Homo sapiens: one gene and its partners. The protein of the gene in region 2 binds, or shares a complex with, the protein of the main gene of each other region. Each region holds a gene or a part of one and is shown on either strand. Other genes may lie near its edges.

The links.
Region 1: STK24 (region 2) and STRN4 share a complex: the UniProt entries of both Homo sapiens proteins name them as parts of the core of STRIPAK complex.
Region 3: STK24 (region 2) and STRN share a complex: the UniProt entries of both Homo sapiens proteins name them as parts of the core of STRIPAK complex.
Region 4: STK24 (region 2) and STRIP1 share a complex: the UniProt entries of both Homo sapiens proteins name them as parts of the core of STRIPAK complex.

The regions. Positions count from the first base shown.
Region 1 is NC_000019.10:46,743,449-46,750,528, reverse strand, and holds the start of STRN4 (striatin-4), read left to right. Parts: upstream 1-4,078; 5' UTR 4,079-4,098; coding exon 4,099-4,380; intron 4,381-4,438; exon of another isoform or gene 4,439-4,472; intron 4,473-5,744; exon of another isoform or gene 5,745-5,769; intron 5,770-7,080. UniProt on the Homo sapiens protein: Calmodulin-binding scaffolding protein which is the center of the striatin-interacting phosphatase and kinase (STRIPAK) complexes.
Region 2 is NC_000013.11:98,455,103-98,462,126, reverse strand, and holds part of STK24 (serine/threonine-protein kinase 24 isoform b precursor), read left to right. Parts: intron 1-229; coding exon 230-353; intron 354-1,686; coding exon 1,687-1,755; intron 1,756-4,822; coding exon 4,823-4,959; intron 4,960-6,950; exon of another isoform or gene 6,951-7,024. UniProt on the Homo sapiens protein: Serine/threonine-protein kinase that acts on both serine and threonine residues and promotes apoptosis in response to stress stimuli and caspase activation.
Region 3 is NC_000002.12:36,837,529-36,844,552, reverse strand, and holds the end of STRN (striatin), read left to right. Parts: 3' UTR 1-6,855; downstream 6,856-7,024. UniProt on the Homo sapiens protein: Calmodulin-binding scaffolding protein which is the center of the striatin-interacting phosphatase and kinase (STRIPAK) complexes.
Region 4 is NC_000001.11:110,044,619-110,051,642, forward strand, and holds part of STRIP1 (striatin-interacting protein 1), read left to right. Parts: exon of another isoform or gene 1-69; intron 70-221; coding exon 222-287; intron 288-396; coding exon 397-460; intron 461-2,061; coding exon 2,062-2,133; intron 2,134-2,923; coding exon 2,924-2,998; intron 2,999-3,153; coding exon 3,154-3,251; intron 3,252-4,493; coding exon 4,494-4,620; intron 4,621-4,841; coding exon 4,842-4,942; intron 4,943-5,724; coding exon 5,725-5,791; intron 5,792-6,337; coding exon 6,338-6,442; intron 6,443-7,024. UniProt on the Homo sapiens protein: Plays a role in the regulation of cell morphology and cytoskeletal organization. Required in the cortical actin filament dynamics and cell shape. Part of the striatin-interacting phosphatase and kinase (STRIPAK) complexes.

The DNA of each region.
Region 1 (7,080 bases), on a different chromosome or scaffold from region 2:
GAACCTCTGGCTCAGAGAGATAAGAAGGATGCAGGGTCGAGAACCGAGGTCTCCGCTTCTGAGGCCCTGGCTCTTGCCACACTGTCTGACTGACTCTGGGCCAGGAAGGAGGTGCCCAGCAGGGCAGAGGACAGCAGCCAGGTCCTGGCTACCCTCAGGCCCAGCACAACTCTTGGCCCTCGCAGACCAGACACCAGCAGATTTGATGGCCAGATGAAGAGGTGCCACCTGCTGGTGAGGGTGTGAGGGAACCTGAGGCGGGGAAAGGAATCATCTAGTACCCTGATAAAGCCATGCAGACTTCACCGCCTCTAAGGGCAACAAACCCCTTCGTTGGGGCAAAGTGGATACAATGATGATTTTGAAGGTCTGAATGTTCTACATTTTTCTGAATCGGGAGGATAATAATAACAATTCTAGCAGCTCACCATGTGCCAGGCCCTGTTCTAAGCACTTTAGGCATATTCACTTGTTTAATCCTCGTGTTATGATCACATTTAAAAATGGAAACCAGCCGATGTGGTGGCTCATGCCTGTAATCCCAGCACTTTGGGAGGATGAGGCTGGGGGAGATTGCTTGAGCCTGGGAGTTTGAGACCAGCATGGACTGGTAAGACCCCGTCTCTACAAAAAAATTTAAAAAATTAGCCGGGCATGGTGGTGTGCACCTGTAGTCCCAGCTACTCTGGTGGCTGAAGTGGTAGGATTACTTGAGTCTAGGAGGCAGAGGTTGCAGTGAGTTGAGATTGTGCCACTGCACTCCAGCCTGGGTGACAGAGCCAGACTCTTTTTTTTTTTTTTTTTTGAGACGGAGTCTCGCTTTGTCACCAGGCTAGAGTGCTGTGGCACAATCTCGGCTCGCTGCAACCTCCAACTCCCTGGTTCAAGGGATTCCCCTGCCTCCGCCTCCTGAGTAGCTGGGATTACAGGCATGCGCCACCATGCCCGGCTAATTTTTGTATTTTTAGTAGAGATGGGGTTTCACTATGTTGGCCAGGATGGTCTCAATCTCCTGACCTCGTGATCCGCCCGCCTCAGCCTCCCAAAGTGCTGGGATTACAGGCGTGAGCCACCGCGCCTGGCCTCGAGACCTTATCTCAAAAAAAAAAAAAAAAAAAAAGGAAACAAAGGCACAGAGAGTTAAAGAGTTAAAGTCTCTTATTCAAGGTCACACAATGTGAAGTAGTGGACCCAAGAGTTGATCCAAGAAGCTGGCTACAGAGTCGTACTTTAAACCAGTAAACTTTACCTTCTCTCTTGGGTTCTTTCTGAAGCCCCAACTCTCAGCCCATCTTTAGTGAGCCTTCCCCAGCCCTAACCTGACAGGGGCTTTCAAAGCTTGGCTATGGCACATTAATAAATTAATTCAACTCAGTAACTCAACAAACTCAAGTATTCTTTGTGGTGGACCCCATGTTTTGAGGATACAGAATGAACGAGGTACTCATTAGGTCAGCCCTCCAGAAGACAGAAAGAAGACTGACAGGGCCACGTGTGGTGGCTCACACCTGTAATCTCAGTACTTTGGGAGGCCCAGGCGGTCAGATCACCTGAGGTCAGGAGTTAGAGACCAGCGTGGGCAATATGGTGAAACCCCCTCTCTACCAAAAAATACAAAGATTAGCTGGGCATGGTGGTGCGCACCTGTAATCCCAGCTATTGGGGAGGCTGAGGTGTGAGAATCACTTGAACTCAGGAGGCGGAGGTTGCAGTGAGCCGAGATTGCTCCACTTCACTCTAGCCTGGGTGAGACCCTGTCTCAAAACAAACAAACAAACAAAAAAAAGACGGACAAAAGCCATGCAACTTACAGACAGGGCAGGAAACCAGCAGGGGGCGCAAGAGTAGAAACAGGGGGCTTGCCTTAGAAATGGTAGTCAGAGGGGACAGTTACTCTGAGAGTTTACTTGTCTCTCCAGTCCCCACAAAACAAGGTAAATGAATCCAAATTCTCTTCAGGCCTTGGGTTCACTGGGTCTGAGTTGCGATTTGGCCTGAGCCTCAGTCCCTGCACCTGTGGAATGGGAATGTGACGGTTAGAAAAAAATGAGAGGGCTGGGCGCGGTGGCTCACGCCTGTAATTCTAGCATTCTGGGAGGCCGAGGCGGGCGGATCACGAGGTCAGAAGTTCGAGACCAGCCTGCCAACAAGGTGAAACCCCATCTCTATTAAAAATACAAAAAATTAGCCGGGCGTGGTGGCAGGTGCCTGTAATCCCAGCTACTCGGGAGGCTGAGGCAGGAGAATCGCTTGAACCAGGGAGGTGGAGGTTGCAGTGAGCCATGACCGCGCCACTGCATTTCAGCCCGGGCAACAGAGCGACACTCCGTCTCAAAAAAGAAAGAAAGAAAAAGAAAAAAATGAGAGACATGGGAAAGCCTTAAGGAATGAGGAAGGGCAGTTTCCATGAGAGTGTAGGTGACACTGAGGGACTTCTTACCTCCTAGGTTGTAGGCTGGGGGAGTTCCAGGAGGGCAGTTCCAGCCCAGCTGAGCTGCGCTCCTGAGAGGAGGAGAACCAGAAAATCCCAAATCAGCCATTTCCGTACAATAGAGCACAATTTCATCTTATCCACAAAAGTGGCAAGAGAAAGGTCAGGGAATCCTTTCTCTTGAAGTCCTATAATCTCGGGCACCACCTGGGGTGTCTCAGGAGTGGGGTGGGGTGAATGGGAGGGATGTCAGTTATTATAGCAACCTATAACCATCCCTCTAGCATGAATGTGTCCAGAAAAGGTAGGGCTAGAAGCCAACAGAAGCTGTTACCATGACAACCCCTTCCATAGACACACTCTACCTCTGAGAGACATTCTTAAAACATCCCCTGGCCGGGCGTGATGGCTCACACCTGTAATCCCAGCACTTTGGGAGGCCGAGGCGGGCCTGAGGCAGATCACCTGAGGTCGGGAGTTCAAGACCAGCGTGACCAACATGGAGAAACCCCGTCTTTACTAAAAATAAAAAAAAAATTAGCCGGGCGTGGTGGCGCATGCCTGTAATCCCAGCTACTTGGGAGGGTGAGGCAGGAGAACGGCTTGAACCGGGGAGGCGGAGGTTGTGGTGAGCCGAGATTGGGCCATTGCATCCCAGCCTGGGCAACAAGAGTTACACTCTGTCTCAAAAAAAAAAAAAAAAAAAAAAATCCCCTCCTTTGTTGGGCTTGGTTCCTAGGGTCACTCGAAGGGGGCTGCTCTATTATCATAGTAACCAGGCCTTGAACTTGCCTGTTTCTCACCTTCCGGAGGAAGGTCCAGGCCCTGTAACCATAGCAACTGCCCCTCAGCAGAGCATCTCCTCTAAATAAAAACACCTGGTTAGTTTGGTGCATGGGCCTCCCACGATGGGAAGGGGAAGACGGTTACCATGGTAATGCCAACTAGGTGGCTATGGGGGAGGGGCTGGGGAAGAGGTGCTTCTCTTAGAGATCAGTGTCCTTGGGGCTGGGGTCCTTTCTACCTGAATGCTAGGTGGGGGGGAGGTTGCCATAGTAATCAATGAGGATAGGAGCAGAAGGACCACCACGGACACTTAGGTTACCTTAGCAACCTTCTCCTGGTGCAGAGTCCTAAGAGGTTTGGGGCTCCATAACCACAAAGGTGGAAGCGAGGGGAAGGCTGCTCCCCACCACCTCGCCCCCACCGCTGGGGAAGGGTTACCATGACAACCAACCTGGCCGGCAATCAGAGAGGATGGGGCCACTGCTGGTCGCCCTTTCTCTCAGAGTAAAAGTAATTGTCCAGGAGAGTGGTGTTTGGGTGTGGAAGGGGTAAGGCTCTTTCTCTGGGGCGAAGTGGGAGGAGGGGGGCAGAAAGCGGCCCCTTCCTCAGTCTCACTCCAGCGAGGGGGACCGTCGCGCGGGGCCTGGGTCTCCCTCGCCCTCCTCGGGGCGCGATCTCCCACCCGCCGGCCCCCGCGCGGGCACGCTACCCTTCGGTGTAGACCCGGGTGGGCGAGGCTCGCGCTCGCCGCCGGCCCCCCTTCCTACTGTCCCCCGCCGGGCGCGCGCGCGGTGGTTGCGGCGGGGGAGGGGGGGGGGTGTTGGCGCGGCCGCGCAGGCGCGCGAGGCACAGCGGGCGCGCAGGCCGGCCCCGGGGCCTCCATGATGGAGGAGCGAGCGGCCGCCGCGGTCGCCGCCGCCGCCTCCTCCTGCCGTCCGCTCGGCTCAGGCGCGGGCCCTGGCCCCACTGGGGCGGCCCCGGTCTCCGCCCCTGCCCCCGGGCCGGGCCCGGCAGGTAAGGGAGGCGGCGGCGGAGGCAGCCCCGGGCCCACGGCGGGCCCGGAGCCCCTGAGCCTGCCGGGGATCCTGCACTTTATCCAGCACGAGTGGGCGCGCTTCGAAGCCGAGAAAGCCCGCTGGGAGGCCGAGCGCGCCGAGTTACAGGTGAGCGCTGTCCCGGGACCCCCGACCCCCAACCCGGCCCGGCCCGGCCCGGCCTCACCCGCTGCCGCCGCCGCCGCCATCTTGGAGCAATGGCCGCCGGGACGGCCGGCGGGGGGGCGGGAGGGGACCGCGACGGTCCCGGAGGGCGAGTGAGGGGCCGTCCGAGGGGTGTCCTGAGGGCACTCCGGGGTGGGACGGGACCGGGACGGCCCGAGGTGGGAGTGGAGGGACCGGGGGTGGGAGGGATCACCGGGACCGGCCGAGAGAAAGGGGCGGAGGGACCACAACCAGCTGGGAGTGGGACTGGGACTGGGACTGAGCACGCTGGCCGCGGGGCTCCTGAGAGAGGCGACTCGAGCCCTGGAGGGGAGGCTAAGAGAACTCGGGAAAGGGTGTGGAGAGGAGCTGGAGGGGTCTGGGAGACCTGAGTGGTCTCCTGTGGGAGTAAGCAGAAGCTTGCCGGGCGCCGAGGGACTCCCGACCCCGACCCCGACCATGGCCCTAGCCAGGTGCAGGTTGGAGGTGGGAGCGTCCAAGGGGGGAACTTGGGACCCGCTGGGAAAGAGCGGGTCCAGATGGGGAACCGGGAGGATTTAGGGAGAGGAAGTCGGGAACCTGGGATCGGTGTGTTTCGGGGCGACTGGACGGTGGGCACGGAAGGAGGGCTGTGTAAGGACCCGAGGGGTGGGAGGAGGGTTTCAAGGGGTCCAGGATGAAGGTGTGTGCCTTCCCCTCTGAGGAGAAACTTTGGGGATCCCGGGCATGTGTGGCTGCACAGTGCAGGGAAGGGTTCTTTGGAGTGGAAGTGTGGACAGAGCAGGGAATGTACCCTAGGAGCCTGGATGGGAGAGCTTAAGAGTGGAAGTTCCACTTTGGGGGTGTGCAGGAGTGGGCGCGATGGCACTGAGATGGCACGTGTGTTGTAGGATGTAGGTAGAGAGCCCTGAACTGGAGTGTGGGGTGTTGGGCATGTCCAGTATGGAGGTGAGGGTCCTGGGATGGTGCCAATGAGGACGAGTTAGGGGTTACCCTGGGGTGATGCTTTAGGGGGGAGAATTTTGTAGAGCCCGAAGGCAACATGAGGAGGCATCTCGGAACGGGGGTAGACTGGGGTTGGGGGGAAGGGGATATGTTTGTGGAAGTCTTGGGAAAAGACCCCGTGGTTTTTGGGGTAGCTTGGGACAGGGATGTTGAATGGAAGAGTCTGAGGAGTTGGGCTAGGGTTTGTGACCTCGTGGAGCGTCAGGTCCATTGGCAGTGACTGGAGGACCATGGAGATGTCCGGATTTGAAGGGATCAGGAATGGCCCGCTGGAAGTCTGAAGATTCTTGGACTGGGTTATTATTAGCAGAAATTGTCATTACCTGCTTGTAGCAGCCCACCTTTCCCCTTCCGATTTGCCGTTTGCTATCTAGTAGGAAGCTGGTACCCAAATAAATAGCTGATGAGAATTGTGTCGGTAGGGATGGGGTGCGGTGGCTCACGCCTGTAATCCCAACACTTGGGGAGGTTGAGGTGGGAGAATCCCTTGAGCCCAGGAGTTCGAGGCCAGCCTGGCCAACATAGCAAGACCTCATCTCTACAAAAAAGTACAAAAATTAGCCGGGTGTGGTGACATGCGCCTGTAGTCCCAGCTACTCAGGAGGCTGAGGTGGGAGGATTGCTTAAACCCCGGAGGTTGAGGCTGCGGTGAGCCATGATTGCACCACTGCACTCCAGCCTGGGCAAAAGAGTGAGATCCTGTCTCAAAAAAAAGCATTTTGTTCATAGGATGAGTAAAGACCCTCCAGTAACTCTCCCCCTGCCCTCACTTGTGGTGGCTGAGGCTTGGGGCTGGGATGGGAGCAGAATCCTTATGTAACTGCTCTCACTTCTGTCCCACTCTCTACTTCCGAAGCTCTTTCCCAGCATACATCTCATCAGATCTTCACAATGCCCTGTGATGTAGGCAGAGGCAGTGTCATTACCTCACTCAGCAATAACGGTACCAGCTGCAATTTAGTGAGCACATACCATGTCTGGGGCGCTGTATCAAGTACTGTAGATACGAGCTGTCATTTAATTCTTGCAGCATTCTGGGAGGATAAAGGATATTCCCCCTACCTTTAAAAAAAATCAGGAGAGGAAATGGAGGTTTTGAGAGGGTGATTTATCTAGGATCCCAGCAGATGAGCAGAAGGGCTGGTCTGTGGTGGACCTTTTGTTTATTTATTTATTTATTTATTTATTTTTATTTTTATTTTTTTGAGACAGAGTCTCACTCTGTCACCCAGGGTGGAGTGCAGTGGCATGATCTTGGCTCATTGCAACCACTGCCTCCCAGGTTCAAGCGATTCTCCTGCCTCAGCCTCGCAAGTAGCTGGGATTACAGGTGTGCACCACCACCACGCCTGGCTGATTTTTGTATTTTTAGTAGAGATGGGGTTTTGCCACGTTGGTCAGGCTGGTTTCGAACTCCTGGCCTCAAGAGATCCACCTGCCTCGGCCTCCCAAAGTGCTGGGATTACAGGCATAAGCCACCATGCCCGACCGTCGGTAGACTTTTAAGCCCATGTTCTGTACCTCTCTGCTACCCAGTACAGTTGAGAAAATTGGTTCAGGCAAGCATAGTGGCCTCCCCAGGGTCACCCAAGCAGTCATAGCAGAGCTTGGACTGAATCTTGGCCTCTGGGACTTTGCACCAGTGCACCGCACAGCACC
Region 2 (7,024 bases):
CACGCCAGGGAGTTGTGGAACCACCTCCCGATGGTCTCTTCTCTGTGAGGGAGGAGGCGGGGGGGTCTTTGGGAAATCCCAGAGGGACTGGACAAGGGTGTGATGGGTGGGGACTTGGGGCTGGTGGGTGTGGGTTTAGAGGTCCCCAGGCGGCCTCCCCCTGAACGTCCCAGCGCCCCCAGAGCAGGTGTGCGAGCACTGATGGGATTTCCTGCATTTCTGTGTTAAGGGAAACAGATGGCCAAGCCTCGGGGGGCAGTGATTCTGGGGACTGGATCTTCACAATCCGAGAAAAAGATCCCAAGAATCTCGAGAATGGAGCTCTTCAGCCATCGGACTTGGACAGAAATAAGGTACGTCTGCTCACTCCAGAATGGCCACGCTGACCTCAGTCTGCAGTGTTTTGGAGGCACTTGTGTGTGAAGCTTGCTGTGGGTGCGGCTGGGGTCCTTTGTGGCAGCTGTCCTGGAATTTTGTTGCTAGGGGATGGGCAGATGAAGAGCTTTAGTTCTGTCTGATGATCCAGGTGTTCACACCAGGGAGTCTGGCCTCTGGTCTGTTTTGTGCCACTCTATTCTGCTCTCTGCAGCCCTGCTGTTGAGTTAGGATGTCCCGATGTGGCAATGTCATGGGGTTTGGGGGTGACCCGTGAAATGACTTCATAGCTCTGAGGGACTGTTGTGCATGTTGCGGTTACTTACATACATATCATAATTTTGTGACTGAGTTTTAAGGACCTTATAAGTAAATGCATTGCTTTTGATATTTATGTAAAACAATTTTGATTAATTGGTTTTATGCCTGTTAAATTTATGAAAGGCCATATATTTAGGGTCTTGTAAAGCATAGTGGTGTAGTTTCTTTCAGGCAGGGTGGGCCAGTGGCTGTCCCCTGTTGATCCTACAAGTCCCGCTTTGATAAGTGAACAGGTGTTAAATGTCCAAATAGAGGTTGCAAAAGTAGAAACTCGGTCTCTGTCCTAGACAGCCATTGGAATGGCCAATCTTGACCTGATTTCTATTTCCAGGGTTTCATTAGTAAAGTACTTTTCTCTCTCTCTCTCTCTCTCTCTTTTTTTTTTTTGAGACGGGGTCTCTGTTGCCCAGGCTGGAGTGCAGTGGTGCCATCAGAGCTCACTGTAGCCTCAAACTCCTGGGCTCAAGTGATCCTCCCACCTCAGCCTCCTGAGTAACTGGGATTGCAGGCATGTGACATCACGCCCAGTTTATTTAAAACTTTTTTTTTTTTTAATAGAAACATGGTCTCACTATGTTGCCCAAGCTGGTCTCGAACTCTTGGGCTCAAGTGATCCTCCTGCTTCGGCTTCCCAAAGTGTTGGAATGACAGGCATGAGCCACCACGCCCAACCAGTAAAGCACTTCTGCGTAGATAGCAAGACGAGGCAGTTCACCGCCTGTGCCCACACAGAGTCCCCTTCCACATGGAACCCAGATGCTGGTTTCCCCGGTGCGTGGGTTTTGCATGTCACTGCAGATGAAACTTTGAAGTCTAGTGAGAGGCAGCCGATAGTCTCCTTCAGATGTTATGGTGCGCAGAGGGTGTTTCCTCAGCGTGAAGTGTAGAGGCAACTCCTGCGCTTCCATAGTCCAGGTGGGAGGTTTATTAAATTATTGCCAATGTGAACGTCAACTGTTTCTGATGACCTTTTTTTCCCTCTCCCCCAAGATGAAAGACATCCCGAAGAGGCCTTTCTCTCAGTGTTTATCTACAATTATTTCTCCTCTGTTTGCAGAGGTAGGTACCTGGCTGGCCTTTTCGGAGTGGGAGGGGAGGGGGAAGGAGAAGCTGGACACACTTCAGTGGTGATGTTGCCAGTTAAGAGTTGGGGACATTAAGACAAGCTGGCAAAGGCTCGGAAAGCCTGCATGGTGCCTTCCCAAAGGCTGTCAGCACCACCTTGCGCCTCCCCTGTCCTGGGTGATGCCCACTCCGCCGCAGCCTGGAATGTGTAGACTGGATGACAGTGACCCAGCCCGAGACCCTGTGTCACCCGTTGCCCTGCTTTTTAGCAAATCTCATTGTGTACAGCCTGCTCTCTTTGCCTCAGACCAATTTCTGGCCATGTGAAAAGTAGATTCTTTCTTCTAAGGAGACGTTGGATGCCCTGGAGTCCTCCGGTTTCCCCTGAGCCACATGTTTCACTGAAGTCCCTCCTCTGCTCAGCAGTGCTGTGCTCCCAGCTGGGCCTCCCCACGCCCACTCCCTGCTCAGCCTCTCCCTCCCAGAGGAAAGTGCTCCCGTGGCCGTGTTTTGAGAGATTTTCAAAAGTAGGCTTTATAAGAATGAAGATTGTTCTGCATCTGGTTAGTAGCGGATTTGAAAATAAGTTGGAAGTCCCCTCTTTTCTTGTTGTGCCCCTTCCTGGCTGAGGCTGCCTTTGAGGTACTCACTGTGGGCCACACACGCATCTGTTTGCGTGGGGATCTTCCCTCTTTGGGCAGTTTTCCACTGCGGCTGTGTTTAGGGGTCCTGGTCCTTGAAGGGGAGGTGCTCAGGAGAGGAAGTGTCATAGGAGCTCATTCTCCTCCCCTGTGCCTGCGTCACGCAGCGGGGGACCCCCGGCCATGGGCCGTGCCTGGCCAGCCACGGTCCTGCCAGTGCCTCTTCCCAGCCCTCCAATAAGCCTTCACCTGTTGCCCTGCCCAGCAGGTGCCCTGGAGGGTTTGTCTGAGGGCCTCTGACCTGGCAAGTTCAGGGCCCGGTGGGAGCAGGGCTGTGGCCAGAGCCCGAGGCCTCACCTGCAGCTTCAAGTGGGAAGTAGCCGAGCCCGCTGGTGTCGGGGAAGCCACAGGGCACGCGGAGGCCCTGCTGGATGATGTCTGGCTTCAGCCCTGGCTCATGGTTCTGGGCACCTGTGTTCTTCCTAACTAGGATGTCCGGGTTGAGCGCCATCCTGCGCTTCATTTTGTCCCATGGGAGTTGGCCCCGTGGGATTTCCAGGCTGTGCTCCTGCGGCCCTGCCATTGGCCGCTGGAATAGGGTCAGTCAGGCAGTTAGGGAAAGTGCATGGACTTTTTCATTCTCCTGAGGCTGTTTATTTTTTTACTGGGCCCATGAAGCAACTTTGACATAATTATTCAGGACATATCCTAAACGCCGTCATATCCTGGATTTTCCAGGTAACCAATTGCTAAACTCACAGGCATCTTTCCCAATGTATTTTTAAGAATGATATTTGCTACCCTAGAGTTCAGAGTGTTTATTGTGTATTATTTCATACAATACTTGTAGAAGCCCAGTAGAAGGATTATATCCCCATGCTTACAGATGAGGACATTGAGGAGACGGGTGTTGGCGTCCCTGCTTTCCTTCAGGGAGCACAGGTCAGGTTGCTCCCTGAAGTCAGTGATGGGTCCAGCACGTTCCACACGGCAAGGGGACAGGCCCTCTCCCAGGGCGGCCCTTCTGCCGCCTTTGCTCCTTCTTTGAGACTTAGGGGCGGGGCATGGGCAGGAGGGAGAGTGCTGGATTGTAGCTGACCCTCTCGGGACTTGTAAATACTGTCAAGTGATTGGGAGTCCTAGACAAACACGAGTGGCCGCCTCGGGGCCGGCGGCGTGGCCCTGTGACAGCAAGAACTTCAGGAACAAATGCTCTCTACACCCACTGGCCCTCCAAGGTCAGACCCTTCTAGTTCCTGCCTGCCCCTTCAGTAGCGAAGAGAGAAGCCGTTGCTCTTAGGGCAGGGCTGGGTTTGGAAATGACAGCATGTGTTCAACAACCTGAAAACCAAGCTGAATGTCGCCTGAGATGTTTCTTTCTTCCCTGAAGAGGAGGCGGTGTCCATCACAAAGAGCCTCTTCTGTTGAGTTCTGAGCCATGCTGTATCTTGACTTGAACAGCTCTTATTTTCACAGTTCACGTTTTTGGGCCTCCAGAGAGAGACTTGGAGTTGACCTTCAACTGAGGGAAGTGTCTGAAGGCACTGTTGTGATTTCTCTTGGGAGTAGAGGTGCCAGGAAGAACACTGGAGATTCCCAGAATTTAAGGCTGCCACTTATTTACATGAAATCAAATATTTTGACTCTACTCTGGATCACAAAGGCAGTTTGCTGGAGTTTAAGAACCAACCCATTAACATTAGGAAGTAAGCAGTGTTGAGATCAGAATAACTTAGGATAGGCTTTGAAATTGCTTTTCTGGTACAAGGTTATGGTTGAAATAGGAAAACAGCACAGAGAGGACAGTCCATCACGGTGAGACTTGGGAAAGGCACACAGAGAGCTAGTCGTCTCTGTTCTGGCCTCGAACAGTAATGATTATGGTCTGATGATTGCCCTGTGTATACATAACTGCTCTCAGAGCATTTGAATCACCTTTCTTCAAAAGGAACCCGGGCCGGGCACAGTGGCTCACGCCTGTAATCCCAACACTTTGAGAGGCCGAGGCGGGCGGATCACTTGAGGTCAGGAGTTCAAGACCAGCCTGGCCAACATGGTGAAATCCTGTCTCTATTAAAAATACAAAAACTAGCTGGGCATGGAGGCAGGGGCCTGTAATCCCAGCTACTCGGGAGGCTGAGGCAGGAGAATCGCTGGAACCCAGGAGGCGGAGGTTGCAGTGAGCTGAGATCACGCCACTGTACTCCAGCCTGAGCAACAAAGCCAGACTCCGTCTCACAAAAAAAAAAAAAAAAAAAAGCAATTTGAAGTGGCCTGGAGCCCTAGCCAAAGCTTTTCCCGGACACCCTGGGGCTGGGGTAGTGTCGTGGTCCACACGCCGTGTTGTTCCTTGAACAGCATGCTTCCCAGTTTTGCAGCTGGTGTGCTTCATGCCATTCTTCCTGTTCGTGTGTTTTCAGTTGAAGGAGAAGAGCCAGGCGTGCGGAGGGAACTTGGGGTCCATTGAAGAGCTGCGAGGGGCCATCTACCTAGCGGAGGAGGCGTGCCCTGGCATCTCCGACACCATGGTGGCCCAGCTCGTGCAGCGGCTCCAGAGGTAACTACCCAGGGCCCCTCTGGGCTGGGGAAGGAGAGACCTGCACTTGGGCTGGGACTTAGTTGATGAGTTTGGTACTTGATTCTTGGCCTGTCTGTTCCTGTTATCTTGCAGGCCTCAGGGTAGACAGAGTTGAATTAGAGGAGACTTTGTTCTGAATTCTAGAAATCAATGTGAATGAAGGATCTGAATCTGGAAACTACTGGAAAGCCCACAGGACTTAGTGCATTTGTAGCTTTTGCCACATAAATACAGGGTGGTGGTGAAATACCTGTTTCCTCTTAATTATGCAGCTTAATTATTGGCCAGAGAATGATCGTTCTTAGCCAGATGTGTGTAACTATCTATCTGGTTTTCGGCTTTAAAGTCAAGTGTGAGAAATGACAGCAGCTTTGGTGTGGTCAACTCAGCGGGAGCGGGCGCAGGTGTGTTCCCTGTGTTAGCTGTGTGTGTCATGTCTGGAAGCCTCCTTGGTAGGGGTTCATCTGTGCCAGCCTGTAGGGAGCTTTTGTCCCTGCCCAGTGGCCCCACCTGTTGAATGCACTATGGGTGAGGACTCAGTGGGGTGACAGTTTTGCCCTCCCTGCCCCCTCCCAACTTGTTGTAGGAGTATCCATGGGAACCAAGCCCCTCCTGACTGCCATCTGGCACAAGTGCAGGCGTTTGGAGGCAGTGGATGTGTGCTGGGAAGCCGCTCTGTGTGACCTGAGGGTGATTTGTCACTGGGCTGTCCTCCACACCCCCAGGAGGACCAGGCGTGCTGCTGCCTTGACAGTTCATCTTCAGGTGTCCAGGCTGACACCTCCCAAAGCTGGCTGAGACTCTGTGATCATGAGGGGGATTTCTGGGTCTTTCCTGAGACTGCGTCCCACCTGACAGTACATAAAGAAGTTTTGCACACGTGAGGTCCCTTTTGCTATTTGGAAGTGATTGAAGGGGCTGCCTACTGTCCTGTGAAGAGCCCCTCTACGTGGGGACAGCAGGAGAAAACCACAGTTCTGATACTTCACGTTTATGCTTCTGAACTCGGGTTTCTTAGTAAGACATTTCAACTTTTTAAGTTGCTAGAAAATAAAAATGATCTACTTGGCTGCCTTCAATTTTGAGGCAATTGAAGGACGATCCCTCCCTCCTTTGATACTAAAAACAATATAGGAATAAAGGAAAATAGAATTAAAAAGTCACCCATCTTTTGCCTGAACACAAACTTTTTGATTTCTCAAACTTAGCATCACATACCTCATTCTAGAGGCATTTATTTCCCATTAGAAAGAGCTTTATAATAAAACAAATAGAACAAAACCAGAAACGGGTAGGATTGTTACTGTCTTGTTGGGCATTTTGCTCTCTGCTTTTGTAGTATTACTTTTAAAACCAATACTTTCCACACTGTCCAGAATTGCCTGAAATTGTTATGAACTGTTTGTTTATATACGTGACTTGATTTCCCCAGGGCAGCTCCAGGGCACAGAGTGTGTGGCTTGTATGTGTTGAACTGATCCACGTTTCCCATTCCCAGGCCCCTATCTCTCTGTTCCTCTTCTTTTAGTTGTTAAGGCAAGTTGATCTGTACCAGTGCTGGCCAGTAGAAGTACAGCGTGGGCCACACACAGAATTTTATGTTTTCTGCTGGATGTGGTGGCTCATGCCTGTAATCCCAATGCTTTGGGAGGCCCAGGCAGGAGGATCGCTTGAGGCCAAGAGTTTGAGACCAGCCTGGGCAAAATAGCAAGACCCTGTCTCTACCAAAAAAAAAAAATTTAGCTAGGCATGGTGGCTTGTACCTGTGGCCCTAGCTACTTGGGAGGCTGAGGCTGCAGAATTGTTCGAGCTGAGGAGTTCGCGGCTATGGCTGTGATCACGTTTGCACTCCAGGCTGGGCAACAGAGTGAGAACCTGTCTCTAAAAACCAAACAAAAAGAGAATTTTACATTTTCTAGTAGCCATATTTTTAAAAAGCAAAAAGAAGTGAAATTAGTTTCAACAATACATTTTTTAACCTGCCAGATCCAAAGTATTATTTCAACATTAATAACAACAATCATCAATAAGGTATTTTACATTT
Region 3 (7,024 bases), on a different chromosome or scaffold from region 2:
TAACCAGGACCACATGCTTGTCATCTCTCTGATGCAAATTTTCAAAATCATTTTAATTTAGATTCTAATGTCTGCCTGGGTTTTTAACAGGCTGTGAACCAGTGAGTGCCTTGTTAATGTAGAATGATTTTTCCCCCCTGGGTGGGTGTTAGTTAGCTCCTCTCTGAAAATGTCTCAGAGAATGGTATTTTAATTGACTTGTAGAGAGCTGCTAAATTTGTTATTATCAGCAATCAGAAAGTCTTTGGTCTACCACACATCTCCCTCCCTACTATCTCTTCATTGTTTGGCTGAAGTTTGCCTCTTGTGAGAAAACAATACAACTCCCCTTCTCCACACACTTTTTTTCCAGCCCAGATTAATAGGTATCCCCTACCCTAATCCCAACTCTATGATCTAATACCTTTTTTAGGAGGAACCACTTCTTTTTAATATTGAAATCTGCTGGTTACTTTATGTTTTCTCAAGTTCAGTTGACTAGAGCTGACCACAGGGTGTCATCAATTCAGATTCCTAAATAACCCTTTCTCTCCACACCCAGTCCTCCAGCTGGTGAGCCCTGGGCCAGATTGTTTGATCTTCAGGTATTTTAAATTTTAGTTACATCAATTAATGTAAATTAATCCAAATGCTAATTTTTGTGGTGCAAGAAGTTTCTTATGTAAATTCAGGGTATGGATAAGCTAATTAAGATATCCATCTTTGGTGGCTCTAAGTGTATTATTTGTTTTTAAATAAAGTGTACAAATATAGATAACATGCTATAGGTGTCTCATGAATTGGAATATTTGTCAGATTTGGGATCTAGCTGTGGCTTTACAGTAATCAGTTAAATTAACATAGTCTGATTTGGGGCTTTTGGGGGAGGAGTTGTAGAGGGGTGCAGAGAAATAAAAGGATATTAGACAAAGTATACATGAGTCCAAAATTAATGAACCAGTCTTAATTACTGATTGTGAGGAAGGAGAAGTTTATAGAGAATTTGGGCCTCTGAAAAGCCAAATTAAAATAGCTTCTAGGATTGGGTCAGTGGTACTTTCAGAGACACATATGTTTAATGAATAGGTTTTATGTTTTTCAAATGTTCAGTTTAAATGGCTTTTAAAATTTATACACATATATAAATACAATGTTTTTATTTTTTGTTTCGCTACTTAACAGACATACACAAGCCTTCCACACTCCCTGCCCCTTCAAATCAACATTATTTTTCAAGGCCTTTGGCCTGCCCAGAACTCACAGTCTTTTTGTTCCAATCAGGATCCACAATACAATATGAAATTTAAAAGGCATCTCTTCTGATATCCTTGAAACTATCCACCATTGTTTGGTGTTCTGTATGCTGGTATACTAATGAGTATTATATCCTTTGGTATGTACACACATTTTCAGTAGTGTTGGAAACACCTCTTTTATCTTTTTAATGAGAACTGAGACATGATTAGCTTGAGTAATTTTGGAGATCTATCTCAGGAGGTCATTAAAACTCCAAAAATTATTCACGGATTGATGAACCTCCTGGGGTCAGCCTAAGATTGCCAGGTAGTATTCTGACCTCCTCTGGGTTTCCCAAGATCACTGATGTTTTGCAGGGCCCCAGCATTGTCCTGGCACATAAAATATTCCCAGAACACCTTGGGAGTCAAGCATACCTTTTAACCTAAACATTATAATCATGGAGCATCCCTCCGCCTGTTACTTCTCAGGATGACCAGAACACTCCAGTTCTCTAAGGAAGCACTGACATACGGCTCTGAAAATTGGAATCCGTTTTCTGAAACACAAATTTTAACTCAGTAAGTTTTGTATATCAAATGATTCAAAACCCACCAAACATAAAATGACTCGCTTCTAAGTATCACTCAAACCCTACAAAACCTAACCCTTTCCTTATTCCTAATTGATATTTCACTAAAGGTAATGGTAGTTTCAGTTAGATTGGAAGTCATTATTTGGGTGAGCAAAGTCTGCAATAACCTACTGATAGGAAGGACCTATTTCATAGAAAAGTATCTTGTCCTTGGTGATTTAGCCATTCACCTTACGTGAAGAGTGGTCCAGATGCCAGCTCCACATTGACTTTTTCTGTGTCCCTCTTTAGGTAATTAACCCAGTGATGTAAAGGAGAGCCCACAGTAAAACATCTGTTAAACAGCACTTGGAGTACTATAGTGTTATTAATTTATGTGCTATAATTTCTTATGCCATCATAAAATCTAGTGTATGTACCAGGTTCCCAATTCATTGCCTCAAACAAAAGATTTTTAAAAATTCTAATAGCATCAAATTAAGGGTAATGGTAGGGAAACCCATCATCCACAATTAAATATGCCCAAACTGAAAACTTTAAGAAAAAAAAGCACATGGAAAGCAACGTTTTACATTAATCGTGAGTTGTAGAAATAAACAGCTTGTGGTTTGTATATGTGCCGAAATGTTAAAGTATGCTGGCATCCAACTACTTCCCTTTGGAAATGGGACCAAGACAATAATTTTTCATGCATAAACAAAATTAACTTAGAGCAAAAGTAATTTTATCAGAAACAGTTTATTTTGGGGGCTGGATAACTTGGGTGAGAGTGTGGGGAAAGAAGTACCTTACCAAAAAGGAGAAGCAACTGACCCTGTGGCCTGAGCCACATTGTCTTCCATTTCAACTTCAATGGGCTGGCAGTATACCACTTCTGACCTCAAAGAATGAATGGTTCCAATTCTGGCTTGTCATTGGTCCTTGTTATCTAAATTAAATATTTTTAGGAAATATATCAAAAGTATCCTAGAGCCCCATGGCAAAGTGTCAGAGGAAATAGTTTTCATTATATTTTAGGAAGCTGTAAAAATATAAGCCCAAGTATTTTGTGTCATCTGCATATGTCAGGATGAAGACCAGGCATGTAAGAAATATCCTAAAGTAGCCAAGTGATAATCTCATGAAAAAATATGAGAATCGTTTTTACAGAGTGAGTTCTCTTTTGAATGGTTTTGACTATGCTTTTAAAAACATTTTTAAAATGTACTTACATCTTTTTCGATAGCCCACGTATTTCAGAATATCCTCTTGATAGAATAATATCACTCAGTGTGATTTTTAGAAAAAGAAAAACTCGGTGGTCTCATATCTTTTGACAGTTGTTTGTGAATAATACCCTCCCCAACAACCTTCCCAGTACTCAACTGCTATGTAAGAATGCTTTCTTATGTGGTAAATGTCTCAGTATTTTGCTGCCTGGTATTTGTTCAGTTTCCTTGTATATCTCAGGGTCAGAAGGAATCAGGCTTTCTCCCAACTCTGAAACATTCAGACTTACTTTCTTTTTGGTCAGCCTTTTAACAAGCAAGACAATAAACTCCTTTTGTCAGAATCGATTTGATTAAAAAAAAAAAAAAAGAATGTGCTCCTTATTTCTCATTGCTGTAGAATACGTAGGAATACACATCTACTAATCACAATTAAAAAATAAGAGAATCTTTAGAAACATCATTGCTTTCTGGAGGTAGAAATTTTGAACTTGAAGGTTGTAGTTCCAGGCAATTTTGTGCCCTTGAGGTGTCCAATTGATAGTATAGCTTGCCTCTGCTAATAAATACACAAAAGTTTTCTTTCCTGTGATTTTCAGAAATTATTTTTGGAATACAAAGATTAATAAGGAATATGTGATGTTTATCTCCTGCATTTCAAAATCTTCTGGATTTTTTTTGAGGCATGAGGAGCAGGTAATGAGATTTTTTTTCTGAATATCTTGATTCTCTCCCTTAACCCAGATTTTGCATATTATGCATTGCTCATTTGTCACCTACAAAAATAAAGGTTAATGATTATTTGTTTGCTTTTGTCTATATAAGCTCCCTAAGGCACAGACCATGTTCGTTTTTCTTATGTTCCTCTTAGCACTGTGCCTGGTGCCTTGCCATATAAAAGGTACCCTATAAATATTTGTTGGCTGAGTAATCAGAGAGCCCATTTCAAAATCTAAATTATACAAATCATCAAAGACCAAAAAAAAAAAAAAAAAATCTCTTGACAGTTGATGCTCAAATGCATTTGGTTCTGTGGAGCTTATCCTGAGATTGAGGTCTGCACCTTGACTGGAGAGGAATTTGGACTTTACCTCACAGGTAGCAACAAAATGCCTGAGTAGCAACGTCTTTATACTGCACAGTTCCAGTCCTGCCTGCGTGAAAACTGAGCAGAGCATGGTGGGGACAGGAAGGTGTCCCTAAACCCTGTTGATGACCTCCCATCTATCCCCGGACCCCCATATCTCCTCTGCTCATCCCCTGTTCCCCACTGGCCTCTGATCAGTTGAAAGGGAGCTTTTCTAGCCTGGAACCTGAGCCTGCCTTGATTATCCTGGGCTCAGAACAGGTCCACTTCCACACTCTTTCCTTGCAACCTACAGATGGCCCTACTGACTGCTGTTGTCCAGGAGAAAGACGAACCTCCCAGTGGAATCTTGTCAGGAAAGGCATCCCTCTGGGGAGCTTTCTTTGGAGAGGAAAATTCTGGGACAAAGTTCCTCAGGATGCTCTCAGGCTGGTTTTTGTCTTGAAGATTTTATAGTAATTGTACCAATGTTTATTAACTCTCCTAGGAACATCTCTGTCTTTGGTTTTCTGACAGCACTCCAGCAGGGCCCAGGGCTTTAGCTGAACAGTGCAATTGTTTTAGGAATAAAACAGTCAACAAGTTAGAGACCAACTATTTATATTTAATATTCAAATGACTTTAAATCATTAAAAGAATCAGCAAATTACATATGAAATATTCAACGAATAATCTCAACATTAAACATATACCATGTAAGAACTGTCATTAAAATTACTAAAAATATGATTCCTTTAAGATCAGTTCAACACAGAAGAAAGCAGGAATTTGGCCTGGACAATAGGACATTTATTGTCTGTTAGATTTTAGACAAGTCAACTCTTCTAAATTGGCTTCTCATCTATGAAATGGGGATAATAGATCTGCCTAATTAGGTTGATTTGAGATAACGGATGTAAAACACCTAATAAAATAAGCATCCAGCAAATGACTTGTTCACTCTCTGAATACAGACTTCTGGTCATGTAGTTCGGTCACACTCCTGATAGCTTCTAGAACATCAGGGTTTTAGGAGAAATAGGTTAAAATGAACATCAAGAGTAGCAGAAGACTACTTTCCTTAATATTTGAGTGCCAGCTATATGCCACACAGTTCTAGTTGCTGGCAGTCAGCAGTAAACAAAAACTTCACCTGATGCAGCACATTCCAGGTGGGGGAACAAGTGAAAATATAGGGAATATTAGTGATAAGTGCAGAGGGAAAAAAAATAGAGCAGGGAAGGGGGATGATTTGATGTTTTTCAGGTTAAGAAAGTGACAGAAATGAATTTAAATGCAAAAAACAATGCATAAAGATTCATAATGGCAAAACGAAGCATGTCCCATCATACCCCTTCATTCCTACCTCCCTGATATGTATCTTTCTAATTATTCATACAAATGTGTATACCCAGTTATTACATATGGGGTTTTATTCTACATATTATGCTGCACTTGCTTTTTCTAATATAATGTGTATCATGAGCACCTTACAAATTTTTAAAGGTCTCTCAAATTTATCAGTAAACATATACAGTCTAACGTTAATGAGAAGATATTTTGGTGGGCAGTTTGCTTTAAATAAATGGGATCATGTACGTTCTCTGCATCTCACATTTCTCATTTAACAATGTAGGATGAGAATTTCTCTAAGTCTATCATAGCTCTTATTTCCTTTTTATTATTACAATAAACATTCCTGTGTATATGTTTGTCACCATGATGGTTTTACGTCTGCGGAATAGATTCCCTGGAGTAGGATTGCTGCATTGAGGAGTATGTATATTTAAATTTTTAAATAAATATTGACAGATTGTTTCCCAAAGTGGCCGGAACAGTTTTTATTTCCATCAGTAAATGTATAAAAACACTTTTCCCTTAATACTCATGGCAATAACTATTGTAACATTAAAAAATACGTAGAAAAAAGAAAAAAATCCTGGTGGATGTAGTGATTTTTCAGTGTTATTTTAATTTCCATTTTCCTGACTACTATAAATGTAGACATCTTTTCAAATGTTTTGGTCATCTGGATTGCACTCAGAACTGAATTATCTATTCAAAGTTCTGTAGGTTAGAACTCCAGGGAAACTCAACTGGGCTGTCTGTTCAAGGCCCAACAAGGCTGAAATGAAAGTGTCTTCCAGGGTGGGTACTCAACTAAAGCTCTGAGGAGGAATTCGCTTCCAGCCTCATTAAAGTCAGAGGATGGAGGTCCCTGTCTCCTAGCTGACTGTCAAATCTGATCCTTTAGAGGTTGCTCCGTGGTCCTTGCACGTGGTCCCTTCCACCTTCAAAGCTTGCCAGGGTGCATCAAATTATTTTTATACTTTGACTCTACTTCTACCAGCCAGAGAAAACTGCTTTTAAAGGGCTCTTGTGACTAGTTTAAGCACACCCAGATTGTTAAGGTCAACTGATTAGTAGCTTTAATTACATCTGCCAAGTCCCTCTGCCCTGCAATGTAACATCAACCATGGAAGTAACATGAGGGGCAGAGTTCATGGGGGCCATCTTAGAATTCTGCCTACCACAAATATTCGTAGTTATACTTTTATATACATTTTTAAATTTTTCTTATTTTTGGTCCATATGTTTGTACCGTTTGTCTTTTTAGTTAACTAGTTTGTGAAAGCATTTTGTATGTTGTACAATATATGTTCAGATTTTCTTATCTTGGATGCAAACATTTTTTTCCAACTCTTGTAAGTTGTCTGTTGACCACATTCAAAAGTACTTTTTCCAAATAAAACTTTGCCTTTTGAATTTCACTTGAGTGAATTGCATATTTGCATTTTAAAATGTTTATTTTGTTATTTTATTAAAGTTTTGCCCATGTTCCACTGTGTTTTTTAAAATTTGCAGGTGCTCTTTTTATACTACATGTAAACCCTTTTTCTTACTATTTGCCAGTGTTTTTCTCCAAAACTATATTATTTT
Region 4 (7,024 bases), on a different chromosome or scaffold from region 2:
TTAACATGTATTTCCAGGTTACTGATCCAGCAAAATTATAAGAAACATTAAAATTCTCTGAAAATTTCAGTTTTTTCCCTTTTTTCAAAGAGAAAAACAATTATAGGAGACTTCTCCTGGCTTCACAGTTTCTGGATGCTGTGTTTTTGTTAACTGTAACACTTTGAAATAGCATTTGCTAAAAACCTTTTTTCTTTCTCTCTTTTTTGGTGATGTGGCAGAGAGAAAGACATTGAGATGTTCCTTGAGTCCAGCCGCAGCAAATTTATAGGTTACACTCTAGGCAGGTGAGTAAAAGCCGAGTTCATTTTGCTGTTAGCTCTCCCGGCCTTTGGTGTTTGGGATCCCAGGTGATTTGATGTCGAGGCTCAACACAGGGCCTTCTTTATTCTCCAGTGACACGAACACAGTGGTGGGGCTGCCCAGGCCAATCCACGAAAGCATCAAGACTCTGAAACAGGTGAGTGGCTTTGGGTGAGCTTTTGGCTTGTTTGGTCCTAAGTGAGTAGAGTGAAACCAGCCTGTAGGGAGAAGCCTTTTAAGACTGTTGTCTGCCTGCAAGAACCTGGGGTAGAGGCCGGGGTGGACTTTGCAATAACCTTGCAAACAGTCTTTCGTAAGTTTTGCTTGTTTTATTATAAGTTTTACTTGTTTTAGCTGAGCTTTTGTTTGGGACTGACTGGGAAGTCTTTAAAGATTATATTACCTGACCACCGGGCACCAAGGCATGCACCTGTAGTCCCAGCTACTCAAGAGGTTGATGCAGGAGGATTGTTTGAGCACAGGAGATCAAGGCTACAGTGAGCTATGATCATGGTCCTGCACTCTAGCCTGGGCCACAGAGTGAGACCCGGATTCTTTAAAAAAAAAAAAAAAAAAAAAAAGGATTATATTACTTGACAGTTGTTGAAATTCTAAAGAGCTCAATAAATAGCCCTCCTTTTCCTTGCCCACGTTCTCAGGCGGTTGAAATAGAGGAGTAGGCAGATGGAGATTGTAATGCCAACTTTATAGCTCATAGAGCCATGGAGAATGAGGCTTAAGAACACAGCAGTAGTGTCCTAATACGTTGTTCCAGAATTAGGCAGAGTTACCTACCAGTCCCAGGCAGTGTGGGGAGGCTCTGCCAAGCTTGGTGGCGGGGAGGAGAAGAGAGCAGACTCTCAGCAGGCAGACAGGTTCTAAAGAGAAAAGAGAAGGGTGAGGACAAGTCCGCCCTGTGTCCCCTCCCATACTCTCCGATCAGAGAAGGGAGGAGTGAGTGTGTGGACGGGGCAGAGAGAGATGAGGGGTGTTTCGCAAACCCCTGTCCCTCCACACGGGAGAGAACATTAAGAGTGGGGAAGAGGCATCTCCCCTAACAGCTATCTGGAGTGAAACTGTTTTTATGTTTTTGAAATATATTTTTGGAATTTGTAGTACTAAGTGGTCTCTCTGCAGCTAGGCTTTTTGAGTACTTGATTTTGCTTTCAGTTTTTCTCCTGTTGCTGTAGCTATCTGAAAGGCCATTTCCCTCCTTTAATTTACTTTTTTCTTATCTACCATGGGCTTCTTACTGTAGTTGCAAGAGGAAGGGGCCCTTTTAGAAAAATATTTTGGGGCCAGGCATGGTGGCTCACGCCTATAATCCCAGCACTTTGAGAGGCCAAGGTGGGTGGATCACCTAAGGTCAGGAGTTCAAGACCAGCCTCACCAACATGGCAAAATCCCATCTCTACTAAAAATACAAAAATTAGCCAGGTGTGGTGGTGCACACCTGTAGTCCCAGCTACTTGGGAGGCTGGAGCAGGAAAATTGCTTGAACCTGGGAGGCGGAGGTGGCAGTGAGCCAAGATCATGCCACTGCACTCCAGTCTGGGCAACAGAGGAAGACTTCATCTCAAAAAAATAAAAATAAAAAATATCTGGGGTTTGGGATTTTAGCTAGGGATTTTTGTGGTGACTTAATCCTCTTTCAGAAGACTGTGTTTGAAGACAAATGTGTGGGGATTTTGCTAGAGTGCAGGGAGTTTGGCCAGAGAATGTTTTCCCCAGCCCTTCTTTTCCCATCTCTCCCACCAGCACAAGTACACGTCGATTGCAGAGGTCCAGGCACAGATGGAGGAGGAATACCTCCGCTCCCCTCTCTCAGGGGTAAGTTGGAGGTCCTCAGTCCGGGCGCGGTGGCTCACGCCTGTAATCCCAGCACTTTGGGAGGCCGAGGAGGGCAGATCATGAGGTCAGGAGATTGAGACCATCCTGGCTAACATGGTGAAACCCCGTCTCTACTAAAAAAAAAAAAATTAGCCAGCCGTGGTGGCGGGCGCCTGTAGTCCCAGCTATTCAGGAGGCTGAGGCAGAAGAATGACGTGAACCCGGGAGGCGGAGCTTGTAGTGAGCCGAGATAGCGCCACTGCACTCCAGCCTGGGCGACAGAGCGAGACCATCTCAAAAAAAAAAGTTAGAGGTCCTCTTCAGCCCCCGGGATCCCCAGCTCTTCCCAGGCATTGTGCTGGGATTAGACCACAAGGTTGCCCCAGGCCCTGCCCTCAAAGAGCTCCCAGTCCACCTCCCAGTGCACAGGCTGAGACACGTCTAGTGCAGGGTTAAGAATACAGACTGAGTCAGGAACCTGCCTCTGATGCCTGGGTCCACCACTTTATGGATGGCAACTTAGGCAAGTTACTGGGTCTCTCTATGCTTTATTTCCTTGTCTGTGAAATAGGAATAATAATACCTTTATAGGGTTATAATAATAAGGATGAACTGAGTTATTACAAGTAAAATGCTTGGCACATTGTTTGTGTTCAGGGTTTGCTGTTATCATCATTAACATCATTATGTACATCACTGTTTACAGGTTTTCCTCCAGCCAGCTAGGAAGCTGGCTCAGGAGATTGTATTCTGGGCTGGGGTTTTATGCTTGTACTCATTATGTTAAAAGGGAGAAGAAGAAGTTGAGCAAGTCCCTGCAGAAACCCTCTACCAAGGCTTGCTCCCCAGCCTGCCTCAGTATATGGTGAGTGGTGCCTGCAGTGGGACACTCCCACTACACTGGCCTTAGAGCAGGCCCTGCCGTCCTCCTGCCACCTGCAGACCAACAGGAGGACTGCTCAGAGCTTAATTTTGACCCTGGGCTCTCAGACCTGTGTCTGAATGGTCTACTCTTCCCAGATTGCCCTCCTGAAGATCCTGTTGGCTGCAGCACCCACCTCAAAAGCCAAAACAGACTCAATCAACATCCTAGCGGACGTCTTGCCTGAGGAGATGCCGTGAGTATCATTCTGTGAATGAAGCAGGTGGGGCAGAAGATAGATGGAGAAGGGCAAACATTTTCCTCTTGTCAGGTTGGTTGTTGTTGGCCCAGCTCTACAGGTTAAATGTAGGTATTTTTGACCCAAAAAAAGGAAACTACGAGATTAAAGAGTTTCACTGGTTGGGGAGATGGCTTGGTCCTGTTGGCCTGGATTCTAGTGTAGACTCTACCACTGAGCAAACTCCTGAGTGAATTGGGGAAAGTCATTTCCTCCTCTGTAAAATGAATGGGGCCACCCTGGACATTTCCCCAAAGCCCCACTCTCCAGCTGTGATTGAGACACCCAGGATGAGGAGGGTTAGTTTGTAGACAGCTTGCCAGCAACAGCTGAACCTGTGCCAGGTATAGAGACATCCCTTTTCGCCAGTGATTGGGCACGCAGAATGCTGGCAAATGTCTCAGGGCGATAGAGTGAGATTCTTCAGAGCTCTTCTGCCCTGTGCCCTGTACTTGTCTTTCATGTGAGAGTCCAGATTGAGATCATGTTCTACTTTGAGAAGGACCTGGACCTTGACCTGATCTTCTGCCTGCCTGGGCCACCAGCCCTGAGCCCAGCTCCTGGGTGGCTGTGGCCCCGGAGTATGGCAGTGATGGCCGGCTGAGGGAGGAGGCAGGGGTTGGCTAACACCAGAGGGAGGATCACAGAACACTAGGCCATCATGTGATGGTCCTTGGAAAAAAGGTTCTAGAGTCAAATACTGTATATTTGATTCATGGATTTCTCTTATAAGGAGGAATTCCTCTTACAAAGATGTACAATGAGAAGTCCTGAATTAAGAAACCAATGTAACTCAGTGCTTCCTAAATTTATCTTACTCCAAAACCCTTTTTTTCCATGACATGAAACTTGCCAATATCCTGGTATTCCACAGAACACATTTGGAGAACTCAGGTTAATATGGCAGCAGAAGCTTAGGGGAGATCTTGGAAAGGAGAAGAAGTTCATTTTTGGAGGAAAGGCAGAGAAACAGACTGAGAATGTATTTGAGGGCATCATGGGGAAGAAATAAATTGTGCGAGGCTACATTGCTTGGGAGGTGGATGGGGGAGCCCTCGGCTGACTTCTGAGATGTCCTTGGGGTGAGTGGGGAGGTAGGAGTCTTTGCCCAGGGAGGCTCCGGAGTCCATCTTTTCTGTGGGCACCTAGAAATGAGGTACTGCGCATGCTGGTGGCTTACCCAGGCAATTATGTTTCCAGCACCACAGTGTTGCAGAGCATGAAGCTGGGGGTGGATGTAAACCGCCACAAAGAGGTCATTGTTAAGGCCATTTCTGCTGTCCTGCTGCTGCTGCTCAAGCACTTTAAGTTGAACCATGTCTACCAGGTACCCACAGGGCTTTCCCTCCTGTCCTGTGGGCTGGGGCCTCGGGCACTGCTGCTCCTCCAGCCCACAAGAACGGGGGCCTTGGCCTTTGACCCACTTGAACTCTGCATGAATGTTCTAAGACATGGCCCTTCAGCCAAGGCCTTTCATCCCTGGAGGAAAGAGGGCAAGGTCCCAAGGGCCGCGCCTTTTTTTTTTTTTTTTTTTCCTGTTGGCTTCAGTTTGAATACATGGCCCAGCACCTGGTGTTTGCCAACTGCATTCCTTTGATCCTAAAGTTCTTCAATCAAAACATCATGTCCTACATCACTGCCAAGAACAGGTGATGAGGGCCAGGGACCATGAAGGGGTGGATATGGTCAGACGGCAGAGTTCCCAGCTGGTATTTCCCACTGTGTCCATTTTTCCAGCACCTACGAGCCAGCACTGTGCTAGGCATCAAGACATAAAGATAAATGAGACATGGCCTCTGCCTGTGGAGAGCCCACTGTGTCAAATCTGAGTCTAGCTAGTCCTGCCCCAGGTGACTTGGTCTGTGCCTGGGCAGGAGGGTTTTCATCCCAGGATCTAGTACTTTCCTCCCTGTCCCTTCTGTACTTTTTTTTTTTTTTTTTGAGGAGTCCATGGGCTGCTTGCTGTCTCTAAGGGGCTCGGCCATGTGCCTTGTAATGCCCTATCTGCTGACTCTTAGCCCCTGCTGTTGGCCTGGTGCCAGCTGTGCTTGACATTACTTGCTCGTCAGTGTGATATACCACAGGGCGCCGGCCAGACCCTGTCTCCAGAAAGGTTTGGCATAAATTAGTTGCCCTGAGCTATCTCCTCCCCCGCCCCACATTGATTGCTGTGGGGGAAGCTGTGAGGGTCTCTTCCCCTTACAAGATCAACAAGCTGGCCTCTGGCTACAGGGGTGCTTTACAAGTTCTCTTGTAACAGATATTTCCTCATCTTATAGGTGGGGAAACTGGGGTGGGACACATCAGGTAGATTCCTACTTCTGCTCCAACAAGTGAGGGAGGAAAGCTGGGAGCTGGCTCAGGCACGGCTGCTCCACCAGGCCCTGGGCCTTTGCTCATGGTGGGCATCTGGTTCCTCTCCCCTCTGCAGCATTTCTGTCCTGGATTACCCTCACTGCGTGGTGCATGAGCTGCCAGAGCTGACGGCGGAGAGTTTGGTGAGTGGCTGGGCTCTCCTCAGCTGTCCTTTTGGCACCAGGGTCAGTGGGTAGAGAGCCTGCCTACCCCAACACTGCAGGAATAGAGGTGTCTCCCGCAGGTGAAATCACTGTGGAGTGCCCGGCTTTTAAAGCACTGTAAGTGTACAGAAGGGCCAGGAGGAGGGCTCTTGCAGAGCAGAGAGATTTGGATTTAGGGATTAGTCAGGGAGTGTGGTCTTCAGGGGCTGCTGATCCAGAGCTCACCTAGTAGAGGGCTTCTCTCCCTCAACACTGGACTCGGCAGTAGGAGCTCTGGGGCAGCCCAAGGCCACAGCTCCCAGTATCATGGTTCATATTTCCTGCAGGAAAAGTCTAGGGAGCCTCCCTCTTCCCCTAGTCCCCTGCCAGCTTCTGGGATGGAGTCCTGGGGCTGCTCTGAGAGCAGGGGATTCCTGGTAGAGGCCTGGAGACCCGGCTGTCCTGAGATCATGTGTGAGGGACTTTTGGAAACTGCTGCACACACTGCAGCCATGAGGGCTGATTGTTCCTGGGTTTACCCTGCAGGAAGCAGGTGACAGTAACCAATTTTGCTGGAGGAACCTCTTTTCTTGTATCAATCTGCTTCGGATCTTGAACAAGCTGACAAAGTGGAAGCATTCAAGGACAATGGTAAGTGAGTCAGTGTAGTCAGCAGGCTTGGAACTTGGAGCTCAAAGAAGAGTGCTGGGAGCAGGGAGTCCCCAGGGTGGGGCTCACTGTGCCTTCTCACTTAACTTTGCTGTAGCCGTATCCTTGCATTTTAAGGGCCAATTCCCAGTTCCTTGATGAATTGAACTGGAAGCTGGAAGAGGCCCAGTCATGCACTGAAACAAATCTACATTTATAGAAGAACTTTTTCCATGTCGTCTTAATCTTGATTGGTAACATAATCAGGGTTCTGAGAATCTTCCTTAACTCTGGGTCTGTGGATGCCTTTGGGGTGGGGAGGTCCTTGAATCCTCTGATAACTGTGTGTACATGTACACCGGAATGTTTCTGGAAGGAATCCATAGCTTTCTTCAGATTCCAAAGTGACACATAGTTAGGGTGACCAACCATCCTGGTTTGTCTGGAACTCTACTGGTTTTAGCATTTAAAGTCCTATGTATCAGGAAACTCTTCAGTCCAAGGGAAACTGGGATGGTTTGTCACCCTGACAGTAACTTCCAAAGGGTTAAGCAGCAGTGTGACCTGGGATGTATGCATTTATTT